7 separate regions of the Homo sapiens genome follow, and regions 2, 3, 4, 5, 6 and 7 are each linked to region 1. The links come from fine-mapping of genetic effects on plasma protein levels. Region 1 holds a variant in brackets. A gene starts in each other region. All regions are shown on their forward strands.

Region 1 (4,064 bases):
TCTTCTCATCTGACAGCAGGGGCCTGTCTTAGTGTCTCCATCTGGGGCTGTGTCCTCCTTACAACCCTCCCTTCCCCAGCACAGCAGGGCCTGGGGGAGGGAGTGGGCTGTACAGGACGGACCCTGCATTGCTCTCACCCCCAGCCCAGCCAGGTCCATCTCCTACTCTGCCAATCCCTGACCTTCCCATGCAGAGCCTTTGACCACAGACTGAAGGGCTGCACTGTCGGCTTCTCGGCTTCTGAGGTTTTGGTACTCGGACTAGCTTCCTTGCTCCTCAGCTTACAGACAGTCTATTGTGGGACCTCACCTTGTGATCGTGTGGATCAATACTCCTTAATAAACTCCCCTTTATATATACATCTATCCTGTTAGTTCTGCCCCTCTAGAGAACCCTGACTAATACATGTTTCTGAAATACGCAGCCATAGAAGGAAATGAGAAATGAAACTTCCTGACACAGGCAGGAAACCTCAGGAAGCAGCGAGGTCAGAGCTGAGTTGGCTTCTGGTGACTTGCAATGTCAGGGAATCACTAAAAGGGAGGTTTCCGCCTCTATATGAGACAGAGGAGAACCCCAGGGCCCTCACAGTCAGGGAGGGGTTGGGGTTTTGGGTGAAAGTGGGAAGTTGTGGCTCCTCGTCCCCTGTGTTTGTGGATGGCACTGGGGTATCTCTGCTCATTGACTCAGGTTTATGGTCAGCCCTGAGCCTCCCCCTCTGTGTGTGTGAAATAGATTCATTGTAGAGTTGTCAGACATGAGGTTCACACTGGACCCTCCCCTGCTGGTTACAGGCCTGAGCAGACTCACAAGACCCGGGCAGGTGGTGCCGTCCTCCTCTTTTCAAGCCTAACGCCCAGTGCAGCCCTGGTAGAAACCCTCTCTGGCAGATGAGGCACTGGGAGATGAGTGTCCAAGAATGAGAAGAAAGAGGAATCATCCTAATGATAAAAAGTGCTATGACTGGCTGCCTGCGATGGCTCACGCCTATTTTCCCAGCGCTCTGGGAGGCCGAGGTGGGCAGATCGCTGGAGCCCAGGAGTTCGAGACCAGCCTGGGCAACATGGTGAAACCCCATCTCTACTAAAAAGACAAAAATGAACTGGGTGTGGTGGTGCACACCTGTAGTTCCAGCTACTTAGGAGCCTGAGGTCGAAGATCGCTTGAGTCTGGCAGGCGGAGGTTGCAGTGAACTGGGGTGGTGCGCCACTGCACTTTAGCCTGGGTGACAGAGCAAGAACCTGTCTCAAAAACAAACACAGGCTGGGCGTGGTGGCTCACGCCTGTAATCCCAGCACTTTGGGAGGCCGAGGCAGGCAGATCATGAGGTCAAGAGATCGAGACCATCCTGGCCACACGGTGAAACCCCATCTCTACTAAAAATACAAAAAAAAAAAAAAAAAAAGATTAGCTGGTTGTGGTGGCGGGCACCTGTAGTCCCAGCTACTCGGGAGGCTAAGGTAGGAGAGTTGCTTGAACTCAGGAGACAGAGGTTGCAGTGAGCTGAGATCACGCCACTGCACTCTAGCCTGGGTGACAGAGTGAGACTCCGTCTCAAAAAATAAATAAATAAATAAATAAAAACAAAAAACAAACCAAAAAATCAAACACAAAGTGCTATGGTTGACAATCCACACTCACTAATGAGGATTATCATGGTCAAAAGGAGTACTAGGAATGTGTGAGACCCATCTTAGGTTAAACATGTTTAAATATTTGAGAAATACAGAGGACATTGAATTTCTGAGGCAGGATTATATGATTTTTTTTTCTACAGCAGAATGAATATTATATAAAATAATTAGAAGACATAGAAAAATCAGATTTAATGAACACAATCAAAATACTCATTCCTTCGAGGACAAGACACAGTGAAGCACCAATTATGAAATTAGAAAACAAAACAGAATTTTTTTTAGAGTGTAGCATAGAAACTTTATAAATTGCAATTTAAAGTACTTGGGAGAATAGAATGAGGAGGGGGAATGTCCTATCTATTGTAGGCGTCAGAAAGAAGGAAGAGAAAACGATGTCTAGCAATAGCCCAAGAGGTGAGTAGCTGAAC[A/G]TTTTATAGAGATGAGGAGAGACTAACTAAGGACTAGGGCGCATCCCTTTAAAATTGAAATGTATGGGCTGGACGTGGTGGCTCACGCCTGTAAGCCCAGCACTTTGGGAGGCTGAGGCGGGCGGATCACCTGAGGTCGGGAGTTTGAGACCAGCCTGACCAACATGGAGAAACCCTGTCTCTACTAAAAATACAAAAATTAGCCGGGCGTGGTGGCAGGTGCCTGTAGTCCCAGTTACTCGGGAGACTGAGGCAGGAGAATCGCTTGAACCCGGGAGGCAGAGGTTGCAGTGAGCCGAGATCACTCCACTGTACTCCAGCCTGGTGATAGAGCGAGACTCCGTCTCAAAAAACAAAACAAAACAAAACAAAAACCCTCACACAAAAACCAAGACAAATCCCCTTGACACAAGTTTATCTGTCTAACAAACCTGCACATGTATCCCTGAACTTAAAAGTGAAAAAAATAAAGGCAATATGTGTCAGATTTGTGGTGGTGTCTGCTGTTTCACCCCCATATGGAAATGTGTGCCTGAACCCCGCTTTTTTCCTTGCTTATTGTGGCTAGGATTTGTGAATGTAATTCACATTCTCAAGAATGAGCTTTTTTGGCTTCATCGAGTTTTCACGTAGCCCTCATTAGTAACTCCTCTTGTTATTTTTGTCCCCTTCCTCACACCTTCATTTGGAATAATTTGTTGTTCTTTTTCTAAATTCTTTCTGTCATTGCCAAGGTCATTAATTACGTAGGTTTTATTCTTTTCTAATTCATTCGCTCATTTGTAGTTTTCCGATTTCATCATTTAATGTGTAATATTTACATTATCATTCCAAATTTATACCATGCTCTAATTTCTGTTTCAGTTTTCTCAGCTCATTGATTTATTGAGAAGTCTGTGGCTTCATTTCAAAAATGCAAGGATATTAGTCATCTTTGACTGCAGAATCTAGTGAGTCCCAGAGTTCCCAGGATGTCCTGGTGGTCTTTGTTAGGGGTCCAGGCTGGCTGGGGTTCATTGGTGTCCACTGGGGGCAGCTCCTGTGCCTTCTGGAGTCTCTGAGTCTCCTTCTGTTGAGTATGAGATCTGGGTCCCCCGTGGGCTAGTGGATGGCCAGGGGGGCGTAGATGCTGGGTTCAGCTGGAGGTTCCCTTTCCTGGGATGGAGGAGGCTCAGTTGCCTCCCGTCTGAGGGTCAAGCTGTGCAGCTGGGCGTAGGTCACATCCTGGGGGGCTTCAGATGCAGCAGCCTGCAGCGGGGGAGAGTGAGAGGGAAGGAACGTGGTGGGGGTGGGGGAGGCCTGGGGGCCTGGAGAGGAAAGGACTCTCTCAGTGTCCATCTGTCTGTCCTCTTCTGCCTGTCTGTCCTTTGTGTCCAGGAATTCCCCAGACAGTGGGGAAGGAGGAGAGGCCATTTCTCTCCTAGGTCTGGAGTGTTTCACCGGGGCATACGTCACTGCCTGGGGGTCTTCATCGTGTGGGCTCTGCTGGAGAGAGACAGTGGTGGGGGGTGTCCTTGAGTCCCCCTGACCTCCTGGAGTCAATTTTCCTCACTGTTCCCGGGGTGATCCGATTACATCCCTTTCCTGATGGAATCTCAGGGACGCCCTAAGGCCGTGGAGGGTCTGGCCGCTCCCTCCCTGTGGTTCTGGCCTCTGCTCCTCACTCTGACCTTGCCCATTTGGCTGCAGCCTCACGGGCCTTCCCGCAAGAGCTCGCTGCTGCCTCGGGGCCTTTGCACGGCTGTTTCCTCTGCCTGCAGGGGCTCGTCCATCAGAGGATCGTGTGCCCCACTCTGTCCAGGCTTCTCAGATGACAGCTGAGCAGACAGCCCTCCCCTTCCATTCAGACTGGCCCCACTGCCCCACACTCTCTGCCCTTTCCCTGGTTTATGTTCCTTACAGCACGTTGCACTCCTGGACACGATGCATTTATTTGCATTTTGTCTCCCACCATGAGGTGAGCTCAGGAGGCGGGGGCGGCTTTGCTCCCTGCTGTGT
Region 2 (4,064 bases), not on the chromosome of region 1:
GCTGCCATCACAGAGCAAGTGGATGGAGCCAGAAGTGACTCCAGGGTTATGTGTCTCAAAGCCCCTTAGCTTTCCCATGGCCTCCCTTCTGTTCCTGACAGGGCCATGCGTGCAAACATCCCCAGAGGACAAGAGTGTGATTAATCTTTGCATCCGCCATGGGCCAGTGGCTACACCCAGGCACTGAGAGGCCGGTTGTGAGAGTCTGGGCTGGGCAGGCCCTGGTTCACAGCAGACTCCAAATAACTGTTTATTGGTGGAGGTCAGCCGGGCAGGGATTACCATCTCCAGTTTATAGATGAGGAAGTTGCAATCAGCCGGGTGCAGGAAAGTTGCCCAAGGTCATCCGTGAGTCAGAAGAAGAGCAAAGACTTGAACTCAGAACACTGGGGGCCTCTGCAGAGTAAGAGGAAGGAGGCTGGGGCTGCTGGGCTGGGCTCTCCCACTCAGGTGGCCTGGGCTGGCAGCTTTATGGGCCCTGTAAGTCGCTGGGACATGTCAGCACTCATTCCAGCTCTAACGACCCTAAATCAGGCCTTGTCCCCTACAGGTAAGCAGGGCCCCAGGTAGTCTAAATAGTGACAGGTGACTGGTTTATGGCAGGCCAGGACTGGGGTCAGGGCTGGAGATAAGGCTGAGAATGTTAAGACCAGGAACAGGAAGAGAGGGCCACTCACCCTGTGTAACCTTGAAGTTAGAGATGGCAGATGGAGCAGGAACCAGTCCACCACCCCATCGCCAATGTGCAGGCTCTGTGGTGCCCATAATTAAGATGCACCCATAAGAGAGTGTATAGCTTTACCCCTCCCGCATTCCTCAGAGGGGATGCCCTACCAGGGACTCGTTCTCCTCACCCATCTTTATGGTCCCAAAATGCACCCAGGGCCCCCCTCTCTCCTGGGGGGCCTGAATGCAATGAACTTTAAAGTGGATCATTGATCAACAGTCCCTTAACCCCACCAAAGTTTCCCAAGCCTCTCCCCTGCTCATCAGGGGGCTGGCCAGAGGTCACAGGGACTCCCTGGGGGTGGTTTTTATTCCCAGGAACAGGCTTCCTCAGTCCTGAAAGGGACATTTTTATAGCCCTGTGAACACAAATGCACTCCCCAGAATAGGCTCTGGGTGTGGAATCCCTCCTGTGGCTGTCATGGTCGCAGGCTGGTGATTACATTATACAGTGGTGTTGACAATAGAGCCCTAAGCCTGGCATGGACACCCCCTCACCTCCCTCCTGCCTCTCTGTAGGATCAAAGCTGCTCTGTGAGGCTGTGTGATCCTGGGCCAGGAGCGGGGAGTCAGCCTCAACCCTAAGCAAGGAGGAAGCATCTTTGCCTGAATCCTTCTGGGGGAGGCAATCCCCCTTCAGAAGTCCCTAGCCCAGGTTCGAAGGTCGGTAGGGACTGAGAGGTTGGCAGCGGATGGGGAGTGGCTAAACCAGAAAAAGGGGGCTTCCTGTTGATGGATTGATGGAGGAGGTCCAGGTCCACTGCCTGGTTCCCCGTCCCTCTCCCGCACCCCAGCCTGAGCTTCCCAAACTCCCACAGAAGCCCCCACCCCATGTGGGACACAGAGGACCTGCAGTAGCAGGAGGGCACAGCTAAGAGAGGAGACAAGAGGCAGCTTGGGGGCATGGGGGGGACCCCATTTCCCCAAATGTTGGAGCCGCCCTTAAGGGAACTTCCCCTGGACTCCTCTGGAGGTCTTGCCAGATGGGAGAACCAGGGGTCCATTCAGACCCCAGTCTCTTCTCTTCCCATCTCATCTCTCCACCTGGGGGGCTCAAAGAACCTAGCTCCTCCCCTTTGACCCCATCAGCTTCTCCCTCACCGAATCCTCTTACAATCCATTTCTTAATTCTGCCCCATCAACCCTCCCTGGTCATCACATAAACACCAGCAAGGGCAGTAGTTTAGGGACAGCTTTGCTCTGTATTCGAAGAAAGGTCTTTGGTCTGCTTAGAAATTAAGTTTGGAGCAGCCTGGGAGGAAATAGAAGAGATGAGACCCAGAGAATCAATGGCCACTGCCAAAGAGAGATAGGAGAGCCTTTCTGCGGCCACTGATTCAACAAACGGCATCACACGCCCCTCAGCCTCTCATCTCTTCGAGGCCATCTCCACCCCCACCCCCACCCCCACCCCAAGGCCATTCCAAGGTCCCATTCAAGACCACTGCGCAGGGGTGGCGCCAGAATGATCAAAGTCATCATGGGGCACTCATCTTTGTGTGGGTCAAGCACTTTGTGGTGTCGTGTCCCTGTTCCCAAACCAGGGACCAGGAGTAGGATGGGGGAGGGGCAGGGCGCCGCTGCTGAGTGGAGAGGACGCGGAGTGGGTGAGGGGGCCTTGCGCACAGGGCAAGAGGTGGCCAGGCAGGGCGGGGGACCGGGGAGAGCGGAGGATTTCAGATGAGGGACAGGGGAAGGTGGAGAGGGGAGGGCAGGCCCCGCCAGGGGGAGGAGCCGCCTCCCGCGTCCAGCTGTCGGGGCTCCCTCCCGTCGCGGCTCCGCTATAAAACCCAGGCCGGCAGGATCGCTGCACCCGCGGCGGCCTCCTCGGTGCGCGACCCCCGGCTCAGAGGACTCTTTGCTGTCCCGCAAGATGCGGATGCTGCTGGCGCTCCTGGCCCTCTCCGCGGCGCGGCCATCGGCCAGTGCAGGTGAGCTCCCGGGCTCCGGCCCCAGGTGCCCCTCGGCGGTCCCCTCCGTGCCCCCAGCTCCCGCCCCTGCAGAGGATCCCCCCGCGGGCGACCGGTGAGCGTCGGTGGCGCTGGGGTCCCGGGTTGCGTGTGCGCCGGGGGCCGCGAGGGTGCGGGAGGACTGGGCAGCGCGCGAGCTTGTGTGTGCACACGCGTGTCAGCACCGGCTGGGGGAGCGTGTGCACGGGTGTGCGCGGTGAGGGTGTGTGCGCGTGGCCCGGCGAGACGAGTTGGGAGTCCCTGATAAGGATGCGTCTCAGGCCGGGCGCGGGTGCTCCAGCCTGAAATGCCAGCACGTTGGGAGGCAGAGGCGGGTGGATCACCTGAGCCCAGGAGTTCGAGACCAGCATGGCCAACATGGTGAAATCCCATCTCTACCAAAAATACAAACATTAGCCGGACGTGGTGGCACACGCCTGTAATCCCAGCTACTCGGGAGGCTGAGGCCCGAGAATCGCTTGAACCCAGGAGGTGGAGGTTGCAGTGAGATCACGCCACTGCACTCCAGCCTGGTGCTCCGTTTAAAAAAAAAAAAAAAAAAAAAAAAAAAAAAAAAAAAGGATGCTTCTCGGACCCGCCTCAACGCACGCCTTCTTTTCTCACCCAGCCTCCTCCGTCTGCCCGTGGGTTTCCGTCCGTCCCGCTGGGACTCAGCGCTGGGTGACTGCCCCGCGGCCAGAGCAAGGGCGGTCTGGCAGGGTCCTGGAAGCCGCGCTTCCCACACGGGTTCCTTGCCCCTGAGGGTCGCAAGCTCCCCTGGCCTCCCTAACCTCCAGCGCTGAATTGGGAGCCTGGCGGGGGCGGGGGGTGGGGGACCCGGAGCCCCAAGGCCTCTGCGGAGCCGGTCTTTCCGGACAGGGTGATTTTCGTTTAAAGATTAATGGTGAAGCCGAGCTCTTAATTATTCCTCTAGGTGGGAGGTGGCAGGAAAGGCATGTTAATATTTGATAAGAAGCTAAAGGCGCTTCAAGCGGCTGGGCACAGGGATCCGATCCTGGAGGCACCTTCTTTGCAACCCCAGACCCCATCACCGGAAGACCCCCTCTGCCAGTTCTCAGCCCAACCACCCCTCGGATGGTTCTTGGGGTCCACGCAGGCTGAAACCTCCTCTCCCAAGTTAGGTGCTCCATCCTCAAAGCGGCGGAGTGAGGGGTGAAGGTGTCCTCTGCACAGAGAGGAGCCAGCGTGTGCCCTTTGCAGCAGGGACTGGCTGAGCTGTCTTAGAGGGTCGAGGGGCACCTTGCAGCCTCTCCACCGGGCCCCTGGGAGAAGAAAGAGAAAAAGCAGAATGTGGAAACTTTTATTTGTAGGGTTGGACATTGGAAACCTACTAAGCAGCTAGAAAGTAGAAAGAGAAATGCTTTGCAG
Region 3 (4,064 bases), not on the chromosome of region 1:
TAAGTGCGGGGAATGTTAGTAAAGTGTATGGACAATCTGAAAACCCAGTTACACTTCAGTTAAAAGTGTGGATCAGTTAGCTAGAAAATACCTGCGCACGGCGGCTCATGCCTGTAATCCCAGCACTTTGGGAGGCCAAGGCATCACCGGAGGTCGGGAGTTCGAGACCAGCCTGACCAACATGGAGAAACCCCGTTTCTACTAAAAAAAATTACAAAATTAGCTGGGCATGGTGGCACATGCCTGTAATCCCAGCTACTCGGGAGACTGAGGCAGGAGAATCGCTTGAACCTGGGAGGCAGAGGTTGCGGTGAGCCAAGATCGCACCATTGCACTCCAGCCTGGGCAACAAGAGCAAAATTCCATCTCAAAAAAAAAAAAAAAAAGAAAAGAAAAAGAAAATACCTGTGCACACCAACACAAACGAAAGGATGTTGTGTGACTTACAAAAAACCTCACAAGAAGGGGTCCTTTGAGTCTCCACTCCACTTGACCCCTTGCTACTCACAATGTGATGAGTAGACAAACAGTATCTGATGGGCAGCACCCACCACAGGAGAACTTCTTAGAAATGCAGAATCTCAGGACCTGTCCCAGAGCTATGGAAGGAGGGCACACATCTTACCAAGATCCCCAAATGATTCCTGTGCCCAGTGACGTTCGAGATGCACTCCATAGCGCATTCAGAACCATTCTACAAACCACTTTTGAGCTTTCCACTAATTGGGCAGAGGCTGCACACACCATCATTGCAAATCGATAGGGGTTTTGAAGCCCTGGGTGTTTCCTGTTTCTGGCACAGCATGGCAACTGTCCCAGCAAGGGGCAGCCCACGGGAGCTCCTTTGCACACAAGCCCTGCTGCTCCTAAAGGCTCTGGACACACAGGAGACCTCCCAGCCTGCTTGCGGGGGGGGCGGGGGGGACACTCGCTCCTAACAGGTCTTGTTTCAGGTCAGAGATAACTGGATTAGAAACCTGACTTGGGTCCCTAATTGCAGAAAGAGTGAAGGAGGACAAAGAAGAAATGGGGAAGGAAGGCACCTGAGCTAGCACTTTCCTGTCTGAGGCTAGGGCGGGTATGACGGGCAGGCCAGGTGCCCACACTTGGCCGGCTGAGAGGGGTACGAGGCAGGCTGCTCAGGGCAGAGAAGAGGAATGCAAGATGGAATCAGGTGTACACCTGTGAGACGGACCCCCAGGTGGGCCCCTCCAAGGTCAAGGGAGGAGATGAGGACTTGAGTGAGGCTGAGCCAGCTTCTGGAGAGAGGGGCTACCAGACAGAGAGCGAGAGAGGCGCTCAGACATCAGACGGACAGACAGAGGCTGACGGCAGGAGGCTCAGAGGGCCCAACGTCAGCCCGCCGGGCAGGCTCCCCAGGCAGACAGACAGGACGGGGCCCACCGCCCAAGGCCCGACTCACAGGTGCGCGATGCCCGCCTTGCGCACCGCCGAAGAGATGGCTTTGACTGCTGTGCAGAGCGAGTTGAGCAGCTGGGTCAACTCGCCCGTGCCGCGGGCCTTCCTGCCCTCCTCCATGACGAAGCGGGTCAGGGTGTTGACGTCCGTGTCGAAGGGCGCCTGGTCAGCCATGCTTGAACCGGGTAGAGCGCGGGGCTGCAGGTGCAAGCGGCAGGTGCGGGGCTGCAGGTGCGGGCGGCAAGAGAGGGCAGTAGGCACTGGCCGCAGGTGCGGAGCTGCAGGTGCGGGCGGCAGGTGCGGGCCGCGGGACCTGGCGGGAGGACTGACAGACCGACTGCCGCCCCGAGTGTCCGCAGCGCTCGTGGTGCAACTGGGCCAGGCCAGGCGCCGGCGGGTGAATCGCGGAAACCTTTAGACGCGGGTCGGCCCCCCGCCCCCGGGAACACTCTTGCGCCCCGCCTACCCCGCGGACCAGACCGCGGCTCCGCCTGCTTGGATCTTCAGACAAGGTCGGGGATCCTCCCTGCGGTCTCCCAACCCCCGCCCCCACGCGCCCTGCCGCCCCCTAGTCTTCCTGGGCTGTCGCCCCCCACACACACCCCTCCGTGCCCTCCACCCGCACTGTGGAGCGGGACTCGGGCCATCGGACTCTGCCAGAGAGAAAGCTATGACTGTTTCCTCCAAAATCATAAAACGGAAGTTCAGAAAGGTTAAGTAACTTGCTCAATGCCACCAGCTAGGCAGCGAAACCCGCAGCCAGTCCACATGGCCTGGCTTTAGCTCTGCAGCTCCTGCCCCGTGTGGCTGCCTGCCCCCGCCCCCTGCCCAAGCCCCGTCCACTCTGCCTGGCCTGTCACCTGGCCCTTCTGTCCCCGCTAGGAGACACAGAGTCCCCGTTTCTCACCCATCTGAGGGCCCACGTCTGAATCCTTAATCCAGGCCTCTTCTCAAGATTCCTAGAATTCGAGAGCTATTGAGTATTTGAATTTCCAAGATGTGAGTCTCGCCCGGAAGTTTCCCGGAAAACGGTCGCTGACACAGAGTCCTCGGCTACCACACAAAGGCCAGAGGGCTCCACCGCCCGCATCCTGACCCCCTGGTAGCCACAATGCTGCAATTGATGTGCTGATTCACGAAACAACACCTATTGAGCACCTGCTGTGCTGAACACTGTCCTACCTTCCAGGGGTGGAGCCTGATCCAAACAGACAAAACTCCTGCCCTTTTCGAGTGTACGTTTTCACAGAGAAACAGTAAAAATAAATATATAAACAATAGATTAGTTTGTTACATAAGCCATAAGTACCATAGAGAGAAACGAAATAGAAAAGGAAGACACGGAATGTGGAGGGGAGAAGAGGGTGAGCAGAGGCCTCAGTAAAAGCTTCTCTGAGAAAGGGATATGTGAGCAAAGAGGTGAAGGATGCAACGCGCCGGTGGAGATGGGAAGGAGAGCGGTTTCCTCACCGGGAGAGCCAGTGCACAGGCCCTGGGGTAGGAGACCATGTTTCAGGTTCAGGGAATGGCCAGGAGACCGGTGGAGCTGAAATAGAGCTAGCAAGGGTCAGAGGTGGAGGAGATAAGGCCAGCGGGAGGATGCAGAGGTGAGGTCTAGAGGGCCAAGTGAGGTTTGACTTTGACTAGGAGGAACCCACTGGAGAGTTTGGAGAAGAAGAGAGGCATGGTCTACCCTGTGTCTTCATACTGCGGCTACTGTGTGAAGATCAGACTGAAGACAGTGCCCTCCAGGTTACTAGGAGATAGTGAGCCAGGTGTTAGCAGTGGAGGTGGTGGATTCTGGACATATTTTGAAGGTAGAGCTGATGGGATTCGTTGACAGATGAGATATGTGAGAGACAGGAGTCTCGGATGATTCTAAGGTTTGAGGCCTGAGAAACTAGAAGAATGCAGTTGTCCTCGACTGCGATGGGGAACACCGAGAGGGGCGTGTGCTGGAGGCAGGACTGACAATTAGGAGCTAAGTGTGGGACCTGCTAAGTTTGAAATGCCTTCTAGACATCCAAGGCAATGTCAAATAGACAGATTTATGTATCTGGAGTTCAGAGGAGAGATCCATGCTGCAGGTATAAATTGGAAAAGCCAACTGGAAAAACCAACCAAAAACCAAGAGATGTGACATCCGGGAAGCCAGATGAAGAAGGTAAGTAAAGGCGGGCTGACCCATGTGCCAAGCGGTGTGGATGGGGCAGGCAGGACAAGCTCTGAAAATTGACTGCTGGATTCACCGTGGAGACCTGGGGTGCAGATTCCTGTGCCCAGGGTTGTCAGATGCGGCGGCGTTGAATGAAGGAAGGTGGTGGTACCACCAGGAAAGACAGCGACTGTCTCCTCAAAGCCCCAGAGGGGACTTAGATGCCTGGCAAAGAGAGTTGATCCTTTAAGGGTCTTATTTAACTCTTTGTTCCTCAGGCAACTTTTCAGGAAAAACCCTGTGTTAAAAAAAATAGTAAGAGAAATACATCCTTAAACATAAAAACTCAAATAGGCCCGGCTCACTGGCTCACACCTGTAATCCCAGCACTTCACTTTGGGAGGCCGAGGCGGGCAGATCACCTGAGGTTGGGAGCTCGAGACCAGCCTGACCAACATGGAGAAACCCCGTCTCTACTAAAAGTACAAAA
Region 4 (4,064 bases), not on the chromosome of region 1:
GTCAGGTCGTCGAAGGCACCTGCGCGCAGCACGCGGATGTCGTTATGGGACAGGTACAAGTAGATAAGTTGCTTGAGGCCGCGGAAGGCACCGGCGGCCACCTCGCGGATCTGGCAGTGCTGCAGGTGCAATGACACGAGGTTCGGCATGGCCCGGAACGAATTGGCAGCCAGCACCGGGAAGTTGTTGCGCTGTAGGTTGAGCAGCTTGGTCTTCTCTGACACCTTGGGGATCTTCTGCAGCCCCACCTTGTCGCAGATGACGTGCTGCAGGTCGCTGTGGCAGTGGCAGTTCTGGGGGCAGGCGGCCAGCGCCGGCAGCAGACCAGCCAGGAGGCCGAGGCTGAGCAAGAGCATTGGGCGGACCATGGCTGGGACGCCTGGGGCCGGGGCTGGGGGCAGCAGCGGCGGCGGGGCGCGGGCAGCGGCGAGTCCTAGGCGCTCGGGTCTGCCGCCCTCTTTATACGGTGGCCCTGACCGCAGCCGGCAGCCGAGCCAGCTCCTACGTGGAGCATCGAGGCCACTGGGCTTAACTCGCTCGCGCCCAGAGATGCGCCCCCGCCCTCCACGGGGAAGGGGGCGGGGCCGTTCCCCCAGCCGGCTACCGTGCATGAGGGGGTGGGACCGTGGCCCCCGAGCCCCGAGCCCTGAGCCCCGGCTGTAGCCCCCCGCTCTCCTATGGTGCTCCTCTGCCTACCGCCTTTCCCGGGGCTTTTCTGGGAAGGGGGAATAGTTATGTCTGGAGCCCCGAGTTTACATCGGAGAGAGGGAGGCGTTCCCTCAACTTATTTGTTTGCTCAGGTTTGAGCCTCCACGCCGCGCCATCCACACACGCTCGGCCGGGTGCCCTGGATGCGAGGCGGGAGGAAGCGGGGCCGGACAGCTGGATGCGTCTCCCTGCGGTGGGCCAGCTGCCTGCGCTTTAAAGGGGCGCTTGTGCGGCGCCTGCCGAGCGTGAGAGCCGCCCCGGCGTCGGTCTCCCACTTCAGACTCGACGCGCCGAAGCTGGCCCTGGGTAGACCCGAGCTCCTTCCCCACCCTCGGGCGCGCCCCCACCCCTCTCTTCCAACCCCGCTTGCGTTTCTGTCGCCGGCGCCCTCATCCCCTTTTTCCACCGCTGAAGGCTAAGCAGAGAAGTGGGAAGTGGGGGAGAGTGGCCCACAGGAATGGCAAACACACCTGGAAACCACAGGCCACAAGCACAGTCGCACCATCCCCCCTCCTTCATCGCCCCGAAATATCTCCATCCCTCATCCCCAACCCTAGTGGTCAGGACCCGCCCCTGAGGGGTCTCAGGGTGGCGGCTGAGTGGCGCCGAGGTGTACTTGGCAGATGCCACATTCGGGCGGTGGCCCCAGGACTGTGAGGAGGGGTGCGGGAGGGGGTGGGGCAGGTCGAGGGACCAGCCCTGGACGGCTCTGGCTGCCAGACCCTAAGTTCTGTGGGCAGTCCCGCCCCAGCCCGCCAGATTTCTGTGTGCCCACTTGCCAGCCACGATGTCCGGATTCCTGTGGAAAGGGGAGGGTGAGCAGGCAGGGTCACAGCTCTGGCCTCAGGGTGAGCTCCAAGCTGCCTGGCACAGGATATTGTCTGTGATGAGGGGTGGAAGGAGAAACCAGAACCCACATTGAACCAAACCCCAGCCGTGCCAGAGCCAGAGCAGCTGATATGGGGGAAGCTTGGTGCAGGGAGGAGGATGGATGAGATCTGGTATCCGTTGATTAAAGGGGACCTAGGATACGGGGTAACTAGCCTCTCTTCCCTTACCCAGTACCCTCGTGTTGGGGCCTGGTTTCCAGGGCCTGCCCTTTTCCCAAACCTCTCTGCCCCTTGCCTCTAGGATAGGAGGGTCATACTTGGCCTAGACCATTCCTTGATGGTATTTAGGCTTCTCCAAGGCTGGCTTCTGGTTTTTCTGTTGCTCAGGCTTTCCAACCACTGGAAATGGGGGAGGTGGGGTGGGGGTACCACTGGTTTTTAAAATCACTGCTTAGGTTGTTTTTTTATTTTGATGGAAATAAATTCACGGGAAACTCTCCAGAGCTTGGGGGACGCCTGCCCCAAGGCCAGGCACTTGTTCAGGGTTTGCAGAATGCGGGGGTGGGGTTGTGTCTGTGCCACTCCTAGCTGGGCCAAGGCAGGCTGGCTTTCTCATCAAGTTTATGGGGCCTTCAGCTTGGAAGGGAGGAGCCGGGGATGTGGCCTGAAATCAGGAAGGTGGGGTTAAGGCAGCCAGGGGATGGGGGGAGAAGTGTGGGGTGTTGGTAATACCGGAGCCACAGGCACAGACAGGTGGCTGCTCCAGGGAAACGGGGCACTGAGAGAGCTCCAGCTGGAAGAGAATGGTGTCCCTGCTCTCAATTTTCTTTCAGATCTGGGGCCCTGCAGAGATCTAGTCTGCTCACTCCCAGCACCTCTGCCTCCTGACCCCAGGCCCCTACCAATGATGTCTCTGTTTCCACCATTCGGCTGCCCTCCACTTTCCCTTTTCTTTTATGAATTCCTTCCCATTTCCTCAGATAGCTCACCTGATCCCTCTGCACGTGCTGAGCCCTCTTCAAACACCCTTTCTGGACCCTCTAGGTTGCTTATGGAACCACAGAGAACAGTCCCGTGACATTCGCGCACTTCCCTGAGGACACTGTGGAGCAGAAGGCAGAAAGCGTGGGCAGAATTATGCCTCACACGGAGGTGAGCCCCTGACCAAGACTCCAAAGTCCCACCTCCCGTCACCCAGCTGGGGTGCACCCAGCTGGGACATCGGTTGCTTTCAGTGAGAGAGTCAAATGGCTCACTCAGGATGCCTAGAGCCCCCCAGCAGCAGGGGTGTGCTAGGCCTGGCCCGGAGTGTTCTCTGTGGGCTAAGCATGAAAGGGGAAGAGCTGGAACAGTGGCTGTGAGCGGCTGCCAGCTGAACTTCTCCGCGGCCTCCCTTCCTGTCTGAGGTGTGTTTTTGCCAAGCCCACTGTCTGTTTCAGGGCAGCCAGGGTAGCCTCAAAGAGGAGCCAGAGCACAGAGAGTTTTCCTACACAGCTTCTTTTCCTCCAGTGGTGCTCGCCTCTCGCTTTAGCAGAGTTCTTCTTCTTGCTTGGCGTAAACACTTCATTTCCCAAGCAGCCTATCCCTTTGGGGCGGTCCCTTTGCCCCTCAAAGGTTGCCCCAGAGTGCACCTGAATCTCAAATGCCCAGCCATGCCTCCTTTCCTGCTCCAACACTGGGGCTGTGCCAGCTGGCTCCTGATTTCCCCTGCACCCTTCTGCTCCCGCCCCTGGGGGATCGCTGCCCCCGTGCACAAGCAGCTGCTTCCCCTGGGGCTGACCGCTGTCCTGGCGTGAATCTGCCCTGCCCTCCCGCCAGAGCAACCATGTACCCAGGGATTGAGTAGGGATGTGAGCCTCCTCCCGTGTGTGCTACAGCTGCACTGCCACTGTCACTAAGATGCCCACCTGGAAGGGAAACAGGGGCAGGCATCACTCACCCCATTTCACGGACACAGACACTGAGGCACACAGAGGCTCAGCTTTCCTTGGCACGGTGGCCGTGGCTCTTTTCTCTACCAGGCTTTCAGACTCTGTCTCTCCTGTTCACATGGTGTTGCCATGCCACCCTGTTTGGCTTATTTGCTGCTTAATGGGAAGTAAGAGGAGACTCCCTTCTCCTCTGCACGGTTTATAATTCTTCAGCTGGCTCTGCAGTCCACAAACCTCTTTCTTTGCAGCAGCTGCCTGCCCACTCTGTTTCCTCAGCCCTCCCAGCCTGGGACTCAGCTCTTCTTTCATGCCCAGCTCAGGTCTCTCACTGGCTTTGGGTCGACTCTAGCCTTTGTCTCCCTTCTCTGGATGGGGATAAGCAGAGCCAGGGGGCCTCATTCCAGGCAGTTGGGTTGGGGGGTTGGGGGCAGGCAAAGCTCTCTCCATTTCCAAGGACCACCTATCCTGAAGCAAGAGGATAGGAAGCCCCAACCTGAGGCCATCCTGTCCCAGGCCCGGATCATGAACATGGAGGCAGGGACGCTGGCAAAGCTGAACACGCCCGGGGAGCTGTGCATCCGAGGGTACTGCGTCA
Region 5 (4,064 bases), not on the chromosome of region 1:
TGACTTTTTTAAGTCTGCACTAAAATTACTCACCAAAACCAATAGCAGGGTCCTCACTGCTGTTACTGAAAATGATTAACCTTTGATACACTTGTAATATCTGAGAAAAAGAAATGCAGGGGTCTCAGCAGGGCTCCCTTCTAAGGTCACTTGATTTCTAAAGAAGTAACCACTAGGTTTGAAGTCATCAGGATGTTAACTATGGGGATGGTTGGTTCAGTACCCAACATCCTGACAGCACATCTGACCATGTATATTGTATCGGAGACCACATCCTCAGCTCAGAAAAAGAGCTGAACTCATTTCAAATAGAAAGCACACTGCATACTGTTCCTCCAGGGACTGAGGTTGACTCTTCTTAGAGTGAGACATTCCCCAACATTGGAACAAAAATGACTCCCACTTCTTTTCTCACCTAAACCTGTTCAGAAGAAAGTAAGGAAGAAAGGCAGGAAGCAGGGGTCGGGGGGGGGCGGGGAGGGAGGGAAACTCGGAGATACTTTCAGTATCTAAAGTTGTGAAACTAGACAATCAGGAACGCACAATCAGAGGGCTGAAAAGGGCCAAGAGCCCCTACCCTCCTCCAGCCCATGTTCCCACACCTGCCACAGACCAGGCAGGAGCACAATAAACACTCACCACAAAGTGGGGAAGGAAAATCCAGGCAGGAGCCTCTATGTAAATAAATCTCCCTCCTGTCCTCAGCTTGCACTTGGCCTGCTAATTCTTATATAACCCAAGGAGACAGCTAGAAAGAATTTTGATTGGTGACCAATTTTGAGGACTTTTATTAAAATTCTAATTTAAGTCTTCGAGAGTTTCCAGTCATGGATACTACAGATAATATTGCAGATGATGAAAGCGTCTTCAAAATCATAGCTGAGACACTTTACAGTCTTCCCTGGTGTACTCTGATGGCAACAAGGTCCCTTGCCCCTCTCCTACCCTGTAGAATTCCAGCGCCCCCCTCAGCAGTCCTAGCAAAGGAAAGCCTGCCTGCTGGCAGTGAGCCATCATCCACCATTCTCACTTATTTGGATTTGGTTTCCTAATGCTAAACTTTGAAACTTGAAAAAAAAAATGAAAGGAAACCACATCCTTTTTACTCTCAGTATATAGATAGAGGCAGTTAAGAACTGAAAACAGATTTTCAGGTTGATTGATGTGGGACAGCAGCCACAATGAGGAACTCCTATAGATTTCTGGCATCCTCTCTCTCAGTTGTCGTTTCTCTCCTGCTAATTCCTGAAGGTAAGACTGATTCTTCTCATTTCCATTATGACCATGAAGCAAAATGGAGCAGACTTTCAATGAACTTTTGGCAATATTACCTTCCTATACTGAAAGAAGATGTTTTCCCCCAAGCCTTATAATGTTTAGCCAGGCACAATGGCACATGCCTGTAGTCCCAGCTACTAGGAACGCTGAGGTGGAAGGATCACTTGAGCGCAGGAGTTTGAGTCCAGGCTGGGCGACATAGTGAGACCCTGTCTCTATTTTTTTTTTTTAAATAGCATTCTTTCTTGGATTTTAAATATGTCTGTATTTTAGAAAAAAAAATCTTTTCTTCTCATAATTATTTTGCAAAAGATAGCAGAACCACCAATGCTTATTGCTGCCAATTTGTAACTTGAAAATTGCCAAAAAGGACAATGTAAAAATGAGTTAACAAAACTCTCTTGTTCGTAAAACAAATAGTACCTTCCAGGAAAGGAATAGTGGCAACTTAGTCAGCTCAGCCTTTCCTGCTGCAGAAAATGCATAGATAAAGACAATTAAGACAAATCTGACCTAGACACCAAAAGTGAATCAGGAATTATTAGAATTTTTATACTTATTTCTCTGGTCTAGAGACTCTTTGGCAATAAATTAAGGCGTGAGGCCAGTTCCCTCATTAACCCTTTGGGTGTGCTATAGTATTTTTTATTAAGCTAATTTTTTGTCTACCAAATGGTAACCAATATTTCTGCTTTTGTGTGAGTTGAGCATGCATGGGTTAAAATGCTGTATAATTCATGGTATTACCACTGAAAGGGTGACAGCTCTTGGGGAGCTCTAGATTTCCCTTGAAGAACCTGCTAGGAAGTGAGGACTACTCTCAAGCTGTGGCAATATGGAGCCAGCCACGGTTTTTCCCAGGATTCATCAGCTTTTGGAGGCAGGGACTTATGTAATAACCTGCCTTGCCAGGAATTCCCAAAGAACTCTGGTTTATCATATTTAGGTGCATATCTGGTTTATGCACCTAAATATGAGAAGACTTTGGGAGGCTGAGGTGGGTGTTTCACAAGGTCAAGAGATGGAGACCATCTTGGCCAACATGGTGAAACCTTGTCTCCACTAAAAAAACAAAAATTAGCTGGGTATGGTGGCACGTGCCTGTAATCCCAGCTACGCAGGAGGCTGAGGCAGGAGAATCGCTTGAACCAGAGAGTTGGAGGCTGCAGTGAGCTAAGATCGTGCCACTGCACTCCAGCCTGGTGACAGAGCGAGACTCTGTCTCAAAAAAAAAACAAAAAAGAGAGAGAGAGAGAAGAAATATAAAAATAACAAGGCTGCAGGACATTTGGGACAAAGGTTGGCTATGTTATAAGCAGGGCATAGTATGACTATATTCAGGCATGTTAAATCCTCCATAACAGAAAAACACAGGGCAGATAAATCCAGCCATATCTTTTCTTCAAAGGAAAACAACAAAAGCAACCTGCTGTGCTCCTCTTTGTTTCCTGTGTTCAGAGAGGGCAGTGTGGGCCCATATAAGGAACAGACAGCAAAGCAAGGCACAGTTGAAATCTATCTGTACATGAATCACCCTAGGAAAATTGGGATTGGGTGAAGGTCTTTTGTTTCTATAAGCTCTTTACCCTTTTGTTTCTAGAGCCTAGAATTTCTTCCTCCCAGTTTCCTTTTTAAAAGCAGAGACCTCTGCTTTTTCAAATCACACTAGCCACATTTCATGTGGTCACTCTCCTCCTTGCTCTTACCCTCATCAAATCTTACGAAAGGCTTCTATAGCTGTCATTAATACTTGCCTGTGAATTTGGCAATGACTTAGTCCTAATTATGGAACAAGAGGCACTGTGCCCTATTCAAGAAACCATGAGTCTCAGCAAAACTATTTTGGGAGAATCCAAGAACATCTGGTGCAGGAGGTGGAGCACTCGGAGTGTATCACTAAGACATAAGGTTCTCTCTATCTGCATGTATGGTTTGCCTTGTGTTTAGTTCTCACTGTTCCTTAACAATGGGTCTCTACTTCAAGACTATCATCAAGGAAATGTCACTTAGGCAGAATTCTTGGCATATGGTATCTTCTCTCTTCTCTTCCCTATCTCATTGGAAAAGACCTTAGATTAAACCCCATGGTTTGGTCTAGAGATTGAAGGGGAGGTGCAATCGATGTTATTTTCTTAACTTATGAGTGAGAACAGTGCAGTTTAATAACCAAAAGTCTCATAATGACCAAAGGACTGAGGGGTAGGGTCACAGCTAAACGATGCTAATATCGGTTCATAAGCTATATTTTTGCAATGGCTTGGGGTTAAAAGGGAAGTTATGAGGCTTCTAAAAGTCTTATCTATTTCCCCCAAATTAATAGTTAGCCAAAAAGGGTGGGAGCACTTGAGGTTGTCACTACCACTGGCATTTCCTGCAGCAACTGTTGATGGTAAAGACCAAGGCAGAGCTTTCTGCCCTGGGGCCTGAGGTTGCTGGTTTGTGACATCCAGCCTAATGATCCTGGAACAGTCAATGGCCTCGCTTCTGTGGGTGGAAAAACAGGACCCTAGAGTCCAACAGGAATAGGATTTGCATCAGATGTCTGCGGGTCTACATAGAGTAAAAGCAGGGGAAATGCTCTCATCCAGACTTCCTCTCTGAGTGCAAAAAGCATGGCTGGTCTTAGAAACATGACTTTGTGTAGAGCTCTTTGGGGGTGAGCACCAATCTGATTTGTCTTTTTCCATTGAACAGATGTCTGTGAAAAAATTATTGGAGGAAATGAAGTAACTCCTCATTCAAGACCCTACATGGTCCTACTTAGTCTTGACAGAAAAACCATCTGT
Region 6 (4,064 bases), not on the chromosome of region 1:
TTCCAGTTTCAGCATCACAGAGAATCATTTTTAAGTAGGAAAGCCTGCATGGGAGGCATCTGCATTGCAACACTCGCTTGGTTCTGGGTGCCACATTAAGTCCGAGATAAGAAATCACTTTCGCATAAAGAAAGGCCTCTAACAACTTCTCAGCTGGCGCTGGAGGAGCTCTCTCACACAGGTGGAGTTCAAAGGGAGGTGGCACGACCCGACACCAATGCTGAAAGCAGACTCCTGCGTGGAGTGGAGGCATGGCCTAGATGACCTTTAAAATGCTAAAAAGTCTATGATTTTGAGACCTTTGAGACTAGCAGCCTTGGGGGCAGTCACTTTGCTTAGCTTAGTGGCCGGCTTTATGGTCACCTTGGACGTGAAGAGCATAGTTCTGTCTGAACTTTGCTCCAGTTCTATGTAAGAGGACAAGCTCTGGTGTCACAGCTAAAACTTCCAAATACTCAAGTTGGAGGGGACTTTGAATTTATTTGTGAACAGACAATTGCACACTTGAAAATGCCAACACATAAGGGAACACACTCAGCTTTGCTAACTAACAAGATTGAGCTCATTACAAACTCTCCAGCCAGGGGATATTTCATTCTTAAAAGAGGAGTAGAAATCCTGTGTGTGTGTGTTTGGGGGGCTGGGGAGGGGAGAAGAATATATCAGTCAACATTGTTTCCTCCCGCGCTCCCAAACATAGGCTAACTGTGAAGAGCCAGGACGCCCACCGAGTCCTGGCAGCGTTGCAAGGTGGGGAGGGGGCGGGCGCGGTCCTGTCGCTAGTGACTGCAGATTTCCTCTGCGGGGCACTTCCTACGGCCTTTGATCTTTCCCCAGGAACTGCCGAGGGCCGCGTTTGCCTCTAAGTTTATTCCCTCTTGGTTTATTTATTGTATCTGCTTTCTCTTCTCGCTGGTTTGGAGGTCAGAACGCCAGTATGCAACGGGACTTGTGTCCCAGGCAGGGTCTCCCCTCTCCAGGCACTACCGCGAAATCTGGCAAAAGGTACATTTTACTGAGTCCTAGGGCAGCAAATTCAGCGGCGGAGAAAGAGTCTTTCTCCATTCAGGAGACAACCCAGGAAGCCCGATCCCGGGATCAGAGGCCAGGACCCCGCCCCGGCCCCCTGCCCCAGGCCCAGCTGGGCGCCGCCCAGGGGCTTTTCTCGGTCCGCCTGGGGGCTCGAGCTCGCGTCCCTCCCTAAGACGCCAGGCTTAACTTGGAGTTTCATCTCCTCCCCAGGAGGGTCTCAAGTTGCCTTCCTCTGCCGGGAAGGGCCCCCACTCCCCCGCTCCAGGCCCTAATCTCCACCCGGCGTCCCAGTCTGAGCGGCCTGGCCTCAGCTCTCCATCTGCGAGCCTTAAATCCCATTTATCTTCTTAGCGCCTCAGACCCGGACGGTCCCGCCTCTCTTCCTCTCACCCCCACCCCACTTGCAAATCACAGACCCCCGTCTACCCCTCGCATCCCCCAAGTGCGCTGGACCAACTACAGCAACCTTTGAGGTGTTAGAAAAAGTCGCCTAGAGGGGCGCGGCAGGAGGAGGGCCCAGGTGGGGTGGAGGGGGGGCGCCCCAAGATTTCAGGGTGAGGACCGCGGAGGGTCCTGGACCCGCAGTCGCCTAACTCCTGCCCTGCGTCTCCAGTGCTTGAAGTCGGTCCCTCCCAGGTCCCCAATCTAGGTCACCAGCGGGGAAGGGCTGCGCTGGGGGTCGCTAGAGAGGGTGAGGGGCGGGCTGTCTGCTTCCGAGGTGGGCGAGGAGTGAAGGTTTCAGGGCCTGTCCCTCTCACTTCCACTCGATTGTAATTTCATCCCCGGGCCGGTCGAGCCTCCCTCCCTCCCGCGGCCAGCCCTTCCCTCCCAGTCGGCCTCCTTCGTCGCCCCCGCCCCCGCGAAAAGCCCTGCAGCTTGCAGCCGGCTTCACTCGCGCACGCCGACCTCCCGGCTGCAGTCCTACCTCTTGGAACTACCCGTGTTTCCGGGCCCAGCCCTCGCAGCCCCCCACCTCCTCGCCCCGGCCCGGGGATCCGTTGGGGCCGCGTCCCCCACGCGCCCCCGGAGACGCCCTTTCCGTGTGCGCCCGGGACTTGGTGAAACTTTGCAGGCGCCGGCTGCGAAATGGATTTAATCCGAGGCGTCTTGCTCCGGCTCCTGCTCCTGGCTTCCAGCCTCGGACCCGGCGCGGTGTCGCTCCGAGCGGCCATCCGAAAACCAGGTAATGCGCTCCTCCGCCCAGAGCCACCACGCCCCGAGCGCCCCTGCTGGGCTCCGGGGCGAGGACACAGAGCGGGCAGCGCACCGCCTCCCTCTCCCCGACCAACGTCTGCTTAACTCGCTTCAGCTCTGCCAGGAGCTGAGAAAAGACGCAAACCTCGCCCTCCCCCGAGCCCGGGCGGCGCTAGGGATATTTATTTATTAAAAGAATGATCAATTTTCCAGACATAGTAGATAGAGGTGGTGGTCCCCGTGTTTGACCGCAGAGAGCTGACAGTTGGGACAGCGATCGTGCTGTCTCAATTACAGAGGATGGCAACCATGCAGAGGAGTCAAACCAGCCCCTCCTGCGTCTCCAAACATTTTACTCAATTCATATTGTCCAGAGCCCAGCCATTTCCTGTTAAGTGTCTGAAGGGTTGCCTGGAGCCCCCTCTGCCCATCTCGGGTCCTGCCCACGCGTTGTGCAGGGATGTGGACTCTGCTCTTAGCATCCTCTTCCACTCTGGGGCCATTTGTTCAGAAGGAAGCACCCAGTGGGTTAATTTTACCGTGTTTTGAACTCCTGTCTTTGCTTTGGCATTTAAACAAAGAAATGTACGTTGTAACCTGTTATAAGGGACTGGGAATTGGGGGAGAACTTGAAACCATAATAACGTGTGTTTCCTCTAGCTGCATATAGGTAAAAAGTCTTCGTTTATTTTGGTCTACTTTGATTTGGCCTATGCTGTGAGATTATTCAAAGTAGAACATTCTGAACAATGAAGTTCTAAACATTGTTTCCCAAATAACGATTTTTATTACTTTTTGCTGGGACCATATTTAGAATTCTGAAAAATCTGTTTTGTCTTAACTTACTTTGTAAGGGAGGTTGTCTTATGGGATTAATTATATCTTATGAACAATGGAAAACAATATTACTTTTATTTGAATGCAGTCTGCAAAACCTCACAGAAAGTGCAGTTTGTCTTCACAAACGTTTCTGTAAGAAAGAGGCAAAGCTAGGAAAATTTATCAGAGGGCAGAGAAAATCGTCTTAGCGGGATCCCATGTGAATGCTTAAATATTTTCGCATTGAAACTCTCTATCTGGAAATATGACTTGTTGCATTTCGGCTCTGGAAGCGTCCTCAGTCTTTGCACTGTGTCTCTTATTACCAGCACTTGTTACCTGCCTTGAAATCTAAGGTCATTATCATAATCTACACCATATTTAAATTATGAGCCACTCCATTTATGAGCTCTTCAATTCATTTTGGAGATAATAGCTTCAGTCCAAGGTAATATCACATTAAATTGTTTCTCTTCCTGCACGCACACATACATATACCTTCAAGGATTTCAGTGAAGGGCTTCTTTCTAACTTTCCTCCTTAAGATAACCACATCACGATCAATTGCATTTTGCAGATTTATTCACATGAAATCATCTATTAATTGTCACAATTTTTAAACAAAGCATAGTTATATCTATAGTTTTAAAGCATGAACAGTGTATGCAATGCTTTTTAAAGGATATATTTTAATCCATTTAAGGGGAATTTTTAAAAAGCATTTTATAAAAACCTGTTGTATAAAACTGCTCATGTGGGTCATCATATTTTCCTTCTTATTTTTTGGAGTTCTTCTCCTAAAAAGATTTTCTACCTGGTTCATTCAGGGTCTCATTCTGATATTCATGCCAGGAATATGCCATGCTGGCCTCTTTGGTTTTATTTGAAGCATAGATAGGGTTTTGATAGTGGAAACACCACCTCTTAAATACTTTGGCATATTAATTACATCAAATTTGAGATAGAAGTGTTTAGACTAGGTTCAACCTAGAAGAGTTTTATTTTTATTACTTTATAAT
Region 7 (4,064 bases), not on the chromosome of region 1:
TTGGGAGGATCACTCGAGCCCAAGAGTTTGAGACTTCAGTGAGCTATGGTCGCACCACTGTACTCCAGCCTGGTCGACAGAGTGAAACTCTGTCTCAAAAAAAACAAACACACAAATGGTGGGGACCCAAGCCAATGACATTCCTTTTTCCTGGTTGCCCTATCAAGCCTCGGTCTCAGGTTGCACACAGTTTCTCTTTAGATATTGACTCCCATTAGGGATTTAGGTTTTCTTCATGTGGATGATTTTCCCTGGGAGAAAAGGTAGGAACTAAATTTCAGCTTGCCTAGAATGCTTGGTCCTTGATTCTCCCACTTCACATCTCTTACAGATTTGGGTCTCAGTTGTTCTTGTTGCTGACTTCAAAGCTGACATCGATCTCAGTGACGCTGAGCCCACGCTTTGTGGTGGACAGGGTGGGTGTAGGAATTCAGTTGAAGTGTTGAGAGGACAAAAGGACCCTGAGGGAGCAAGAGGAGATGATGGCCCCTAGCTCCACAGCTCCTAACAAAGGCTCTCTCTGGGACCACACTTGAGATTCTGCACCCTCCTTTTGATTAGGCTGGTTCTTGAGCCCTGGCTAAGCCAGCCTGAGCAAAGATCCTGCGAAGTCATCCCTCCCACCTTGATATCTGATCAAGTTCCTCATCCCCACCTTTGATGGGGACTTTGATGTATAAGTCCTTGGCCTGCTTTTAGCAAGAATCCCCCTACCTTGATGTCTTCTCTTAGTAATCCCACTGATCCTCTCTGTTTTCTTTGCCGTATTCAGTGTTAAGCACAGTAAGTCTTTCCTACTGAAATAGCCATGGTCCTAATCATAATAATCTTGAATTAGGTCTTACATTTTAACACAGGTCAGGATAGTTTTTCTTTAACTCTCTCAACTATGACCCTTGGTTGTGTCCACTCCCTTTGAGTGGGTGTGGAAAGCATGTAGACCGTAGGGAGGGTGGGATGGGAAAGGCTGTGGGAACTGGGGCTCCCAGGACAGACTCAAAGGTCCCAGAGCCCCTGAAGGCGTTATGGAGATATGAGTGTCTTCCATTTATTCAGCTGTGACTTGGCGGAAAGGACACCAGACCCACAGTCTAGGAAGTATAAGAAAATCTTATTATTTATTTATTTATTTATTTGAGATGGAGTCTCACTCTGTCGCCCAGGCTGGAGTGCAGTGGTGCGATCTCGGCTCACTGCAAGCTCCGCCTCCCAGGTTCACGCCATTCTCCTGAGTAGCTGGGACTACAGGCGTCCGCCACCACGCCCGGCTAATTTTTTGTATTTTTAGTAGAGACGAGGTTTCACTGTGATAGCCAGGATGGTCTCAATCTCCTGACCTCGTGATCCGCCCACCTCGGCCTCCCAAAGTGCTAGGATTACAGGCATGAGCCACCTCGCCCGGCTGAAAATCTTATTATTGATAAAACCATTAAGCCTTCCCCATAGATCAGACCCCAAGGAACACTGATAATTTATTCAGACTAAAACATCCTTTCTATATCATTTGCCTGATACATTTCTATTTCCTTAGTGGAGTCAGAAGAATTAGGCTTCAGATACATAAAAGAGGCCCCAAACCTCTTTCCTCATCCTGACCTGCCCTGGTGAAATTCTCTGGCAGGGCTTGTCAAGCATGTGGTCTTGGAGCCAGCTCAGTCTTGCTTTGATAGTCTTAACTTTTTTATTATTATTCTAGAGGTAATTCTATGCCAGGTTTATAATCTGACCTCTCCTATCAGGATAAATTCCATCCAACACTGTGGAATTAGCTTATTCACTGAAAAAACACTATTTAAATGCCAAGTGATGAGCAATATGGTACCCTTGGCACAGACTTTTTCAGCTCCTGGAGCAAGTTCCTGACCTTGTAAATTGAGATGCTCAACCTTTATCACTTGAAAGGAATGGGAGAGGCATTGGTAGGGCCTGCCTGTCACAGTCAGAGTTGCAAGGGTGCTTGGGAATCACATTAGCATTTTTGAGGACTTGAGTCACTCTCAGACTCTTTATAAATACAGCTTGACTCAGCCACTGTATGACTGACTCCCCGGGGACATGAGGTGGATACTGTTCATTGGGGCCCTTATTGGGTCCAGCATCTGTGGCCAAGAAAAATTTTTTGGGTAAGTTCCTTTTGGACTTATTATTTGGTTATTTCAGAAATATGGGAGCCAAATGGAACTGAAAATGAATGGCTGATAATAGCTCACATGGAGGAAGAAGACCTGGGCTCTTGTTCCAGCTTTGCCCCTGTGTCATCCTGGACAAGTCCACTCTCTTCTCTGAGACCCCATTTCATCTGTGAAATCAGGACTAGATGATCATTGCAGTCTCTCCCCAGCTCCCTCATCTCCTGCCAGTTCTTTTTCTGCCTAGTTCTTACTTATAAGGTCAGTTCCAGGCATCTACTTTCTTACTCCTACCTTATTAATTACTAAGAGTTACTGGTTACTAAGAGCTACGTTATTAATTACTAAGAGTTACTGGTTACCAGAAATGGTTTGTTTCCAATTTCCGCCATGCATAAAGGGAAACCCTGGGTCTCAAGCTTGTTGGTTTCACTTCTTTGTTAATGGCGAAGGCTTTGCAGAGCTGGTGCCTTCTCTTGATCTGCAGTTTAATGCTCTACCCCTGAGCTACACCCTCTTCTGAGCTGGTGCTTTCTTACTGGCTTCTGGGACGTGGAGATTTCACAGGTCTTGCCTAGACACAGCTATGAAAATGACATGCAGAGACACATGCCTGAACACCGTGTGTGTGTGCGCGTGTGTGTGTGCACACACACACGTGCTCAACACGCTCCATGCAGAATACTTTGAGGTTTGCAGGGGAGAGGACATTTGGGTGGTAGGAGAGATAAAAGGGATACCATGGTGCCCTGTTAGAAGACTGAATTATAATAACTCATTACTGCATAATACTTTACCATTTGCAAAGAGCTTTCATGTACATTATCTTTTTGATCACACAACAACTTTGCCAGGCAGGGGTGTTATTTTCTTCCACTTAAACATGAAAAAAATCAGCCTTAGAATGTTAAGGAACGCGCTCAAGGCCACTTAGCTGGGAAGCAGGGGAGCTGGAACTCTGAACGTAAAACTCGTACCCTTTTGCTATAACACAAGTTCATCTCCAAATAAAATCCTATATCTCTTGGATCTGTCTCTTAGTTTTCTTTCTATTTTACTATCTGGCTAATGAGACTTTGGGGTTGTTTTTTGAGGTAATTACTTATATGAGATTGACTAAGTTTTATGATGATGACTTCTGTTCACACCTGTGTCTCTGTTGCCAAATAGCTCAGAGGGGTTAGGAGTGGCAGGTGGCCAGGGAAGATTTTCCCACAGGCGGCTCAGCAGTAGGTGTGTAGTGACTAGACTTGCTGCCGTGTGGGCTGACGCATGGAACTGTCAGGCTCCCACTGCAGCTATTCATGTGGCTGAAAAATCTCTATTTCGCAAGATACAGACCTCTCTTGCAATGTGGTGGGCACCTGGGCTGCGACAGCTGGGCCAGGCCCTAGAATGCTCTCTGCAGGAATTTTGCACAGAAAAAGCTGTGTGCCTGAGCTGACTGCAGATGGTTTGAACTGATAGTGTCATTCTCATCCCCAAATCCATTCTCACGCCATAGTAGGAAACCTAGCAAAGGTAGTGGAATTCTTCCTGGGCTCTCTAGAGGTGTCCCAGACACCCAGCTTTTAGAGCAAGGGGAACATTTAGAGCAAGGGGAAGCTGGCCTCTGAGCATTCAAGTGGTTGGGAAGCCAGGCTCTGGATTGGCTGCTGAAGATGAGGATGATGGTTTCTCCCCACCACCCACCACCCATTCCCCTCCCTTCCATCTGCCTCACCTATCTCCCCAGTCTCTCTTGCTCTACTGGAGTCTTCTGCCCTGGTCTTCAGAGATCTTCAGGATGGGACAATGGCCAGGATGCCTAGAGGCACCAGGCAGGCAGAGAACAGGAACCAGTTGCAGAGCTGGTTACAGCATCAACAGTAGCTGGCAGGCATCTAAGAGTTCTATGAAACCATCTCTTAATATTCTTTGTGGTGGCTGCTAAGC

Direction of the effects. Positions count from the first base shown, and alleles are read on the strand shown. Strength reflects both the effect of a copy and how common the allele is.
In carriers of allele A in region 1, the plasma level of the protein whose gene starts at base 2,538 in region 2 tends to be higher than with G alone (strong association).
As copies of A replace G in region 1, the plasma level of the protein whose gene starts at base 1,801 in region 3 goes up (strong association).
In carriers of allele A in region 1, the plasma level of the protein whose gene starts at base 435 in region 4 tends to be higher than with G alone (strong association).
With allele G in place of A in region 1, the plasma level of the protein whose gene starts at base 1,145 in region 5 is lower (strong association).
For the plasma level of the protein whose gene starts at base 1,923 in region 6, A is the low allele of the variant in region 1 and G is the other (strong association).
For the plasma level of the protein whose gene starts at base 2,036 in region 7, allele G in region 1 goes with a lower level than allele A (strong association).

What was found. PIP is the posterior inclusion probability: the model's chance that the variant is causal. The UK Biobank Pharma Proteomics Project read protein levels with antibody pairs (Olink). The fine-mapping took linkage between variants from a reference panel, not from the people measured, so its PIPs are less certain.
Region 2: it holds the start of CA4, and the variant in region 1 is fine-mapped to the plasma level of the CA4 protein (UK Biobank, PIP above 0.99).
Region 3: FBP1 starts here. The variant in region 1 is fine-mapped to the plasma level of the FBP1 protein (UK Biobank, PIP above 0.99).
Region 4: it holds the start of CHAD, and the variant in region 1 is fine-mapped to the plasma level of the CHAD protein (UK Biobank, PIP above 0.99).
Region 5: GZMA starts here. The variant in region 1 is fine-mapped to the plasma level of the GZMA protein (UK Biobank, PIP above 0.99).
Region 6: EGFLAM starts here. The variant in region 1 is fine-mapped to the plasma level of the EGFLAM protein (UK Biobank, PIP above 0.99).
Region 7: it holds the start of CPA4, and the variant in region 1 is fine-mapped to the plasma level of the CPA4 protein (UK Biobank, PIP above 0.99).

The regions. Positions count from the first base shown.
Region 1 is chr19:54,247,619-54,251,682 of GRCh38, forward strand. It overlaps LILRB5 (leukocyte immunoglobulin like receptor B5), which reads right to left. Exons shown (of 13, transcript NM_001081442.3): 13 at 1,803-3,314. The coding sequence ends at 3,168. It overlaps LOC107987463 (a long non-coding RNA gene), which reads right to left and starts at 328. Exons shown (of 3, transcript XR_007067341.1): 1 at 1-328. RefSeq lists an enhancer at 3,876-4,064. The variant A/G (reference allele first, on the strand shown) is at 2,067.
Region 2 is chr17:60,147,436-60,151,499 of GRCh38, forward strand. CA4 (carbonic anhydrase 4) reads left to right here and starts at 2,538. Exons shown (of 8, transcript NM_000717.5): 1 at 2,538-2,657. The coding sequence starts at 2,600.
Region 3 is chr9:94,637,718-94,641,781 of GRCh38, forward strand. FBP1 (fructose-bisphosphatase 1) reads right to left here and starts at 1,801. Exons shown (of 7, transcript NM_000507.4): 1 at 1,424-1,801. The coding sequence starts at 1,593. RefSeq lists a silencer at 1,875-1,934.
Region 4 is chr17:50,468,446-50,472,509 of GRCh38, forward strand. It overlaps CHAD (chondroadherin), which reads right to left and starts at 435. Exons shown (of 4, transcript NM_001267.3): 1 at 1-435. The coding sequence starts at 368. ACSF2 (acyl-CoA synthetase family member 2) reads left to right here. Exons shown (of 16, transcript NM_025149.6): 11 at 2,583-2,690; 12 at 3,983-4,064. RefSeq lists enhancers at 1-350, 351-1,308.
Region 5 is chr5:55,101,502-55,105,565 of GRCh38, forward strand. It overlaps GZMA (granzyme A), which reads left to right and starts at 1,145. Exons shown (of 5, transcript NM_006144.4): 1 at 1,145-1,251; 2 at 3,973-4,064. The coding sequence starts at 1,182.
Region 6 is chr5:38,256,637-38,260,700 of GRCh38, forward strand. It overlaps EGFLAM (EGF like, fibronectin type III and laminin G domains), which reads left to right and starts at 1,923. Exons shown (of 22, transcript NM_152403.4): 1 at 1,923-2,215. The coding sequence starts at 2,119. It overlaps LOC124900966 (a long non-coding RNA gene), which reads right to left and starts at 2,030. Exons shown (of 2, transcript XR_007058739.1): 1 at 1,958-2,030; 2 at 461-995. RefSeq lists an enhancer at 553-1,054.
Region 7 is chr7:130,291,126-130,295,189 of GRCh38, forward strand. CPA4 (carboxypeptidase A4) reads left to right here and starts at 2,036. Exons shown (of 11, transcript NM_016352.4): 1 at 2,036-2,123. The coding sequence starts at 2,056. RefSeq lists an enhancer at 2,441-2,530.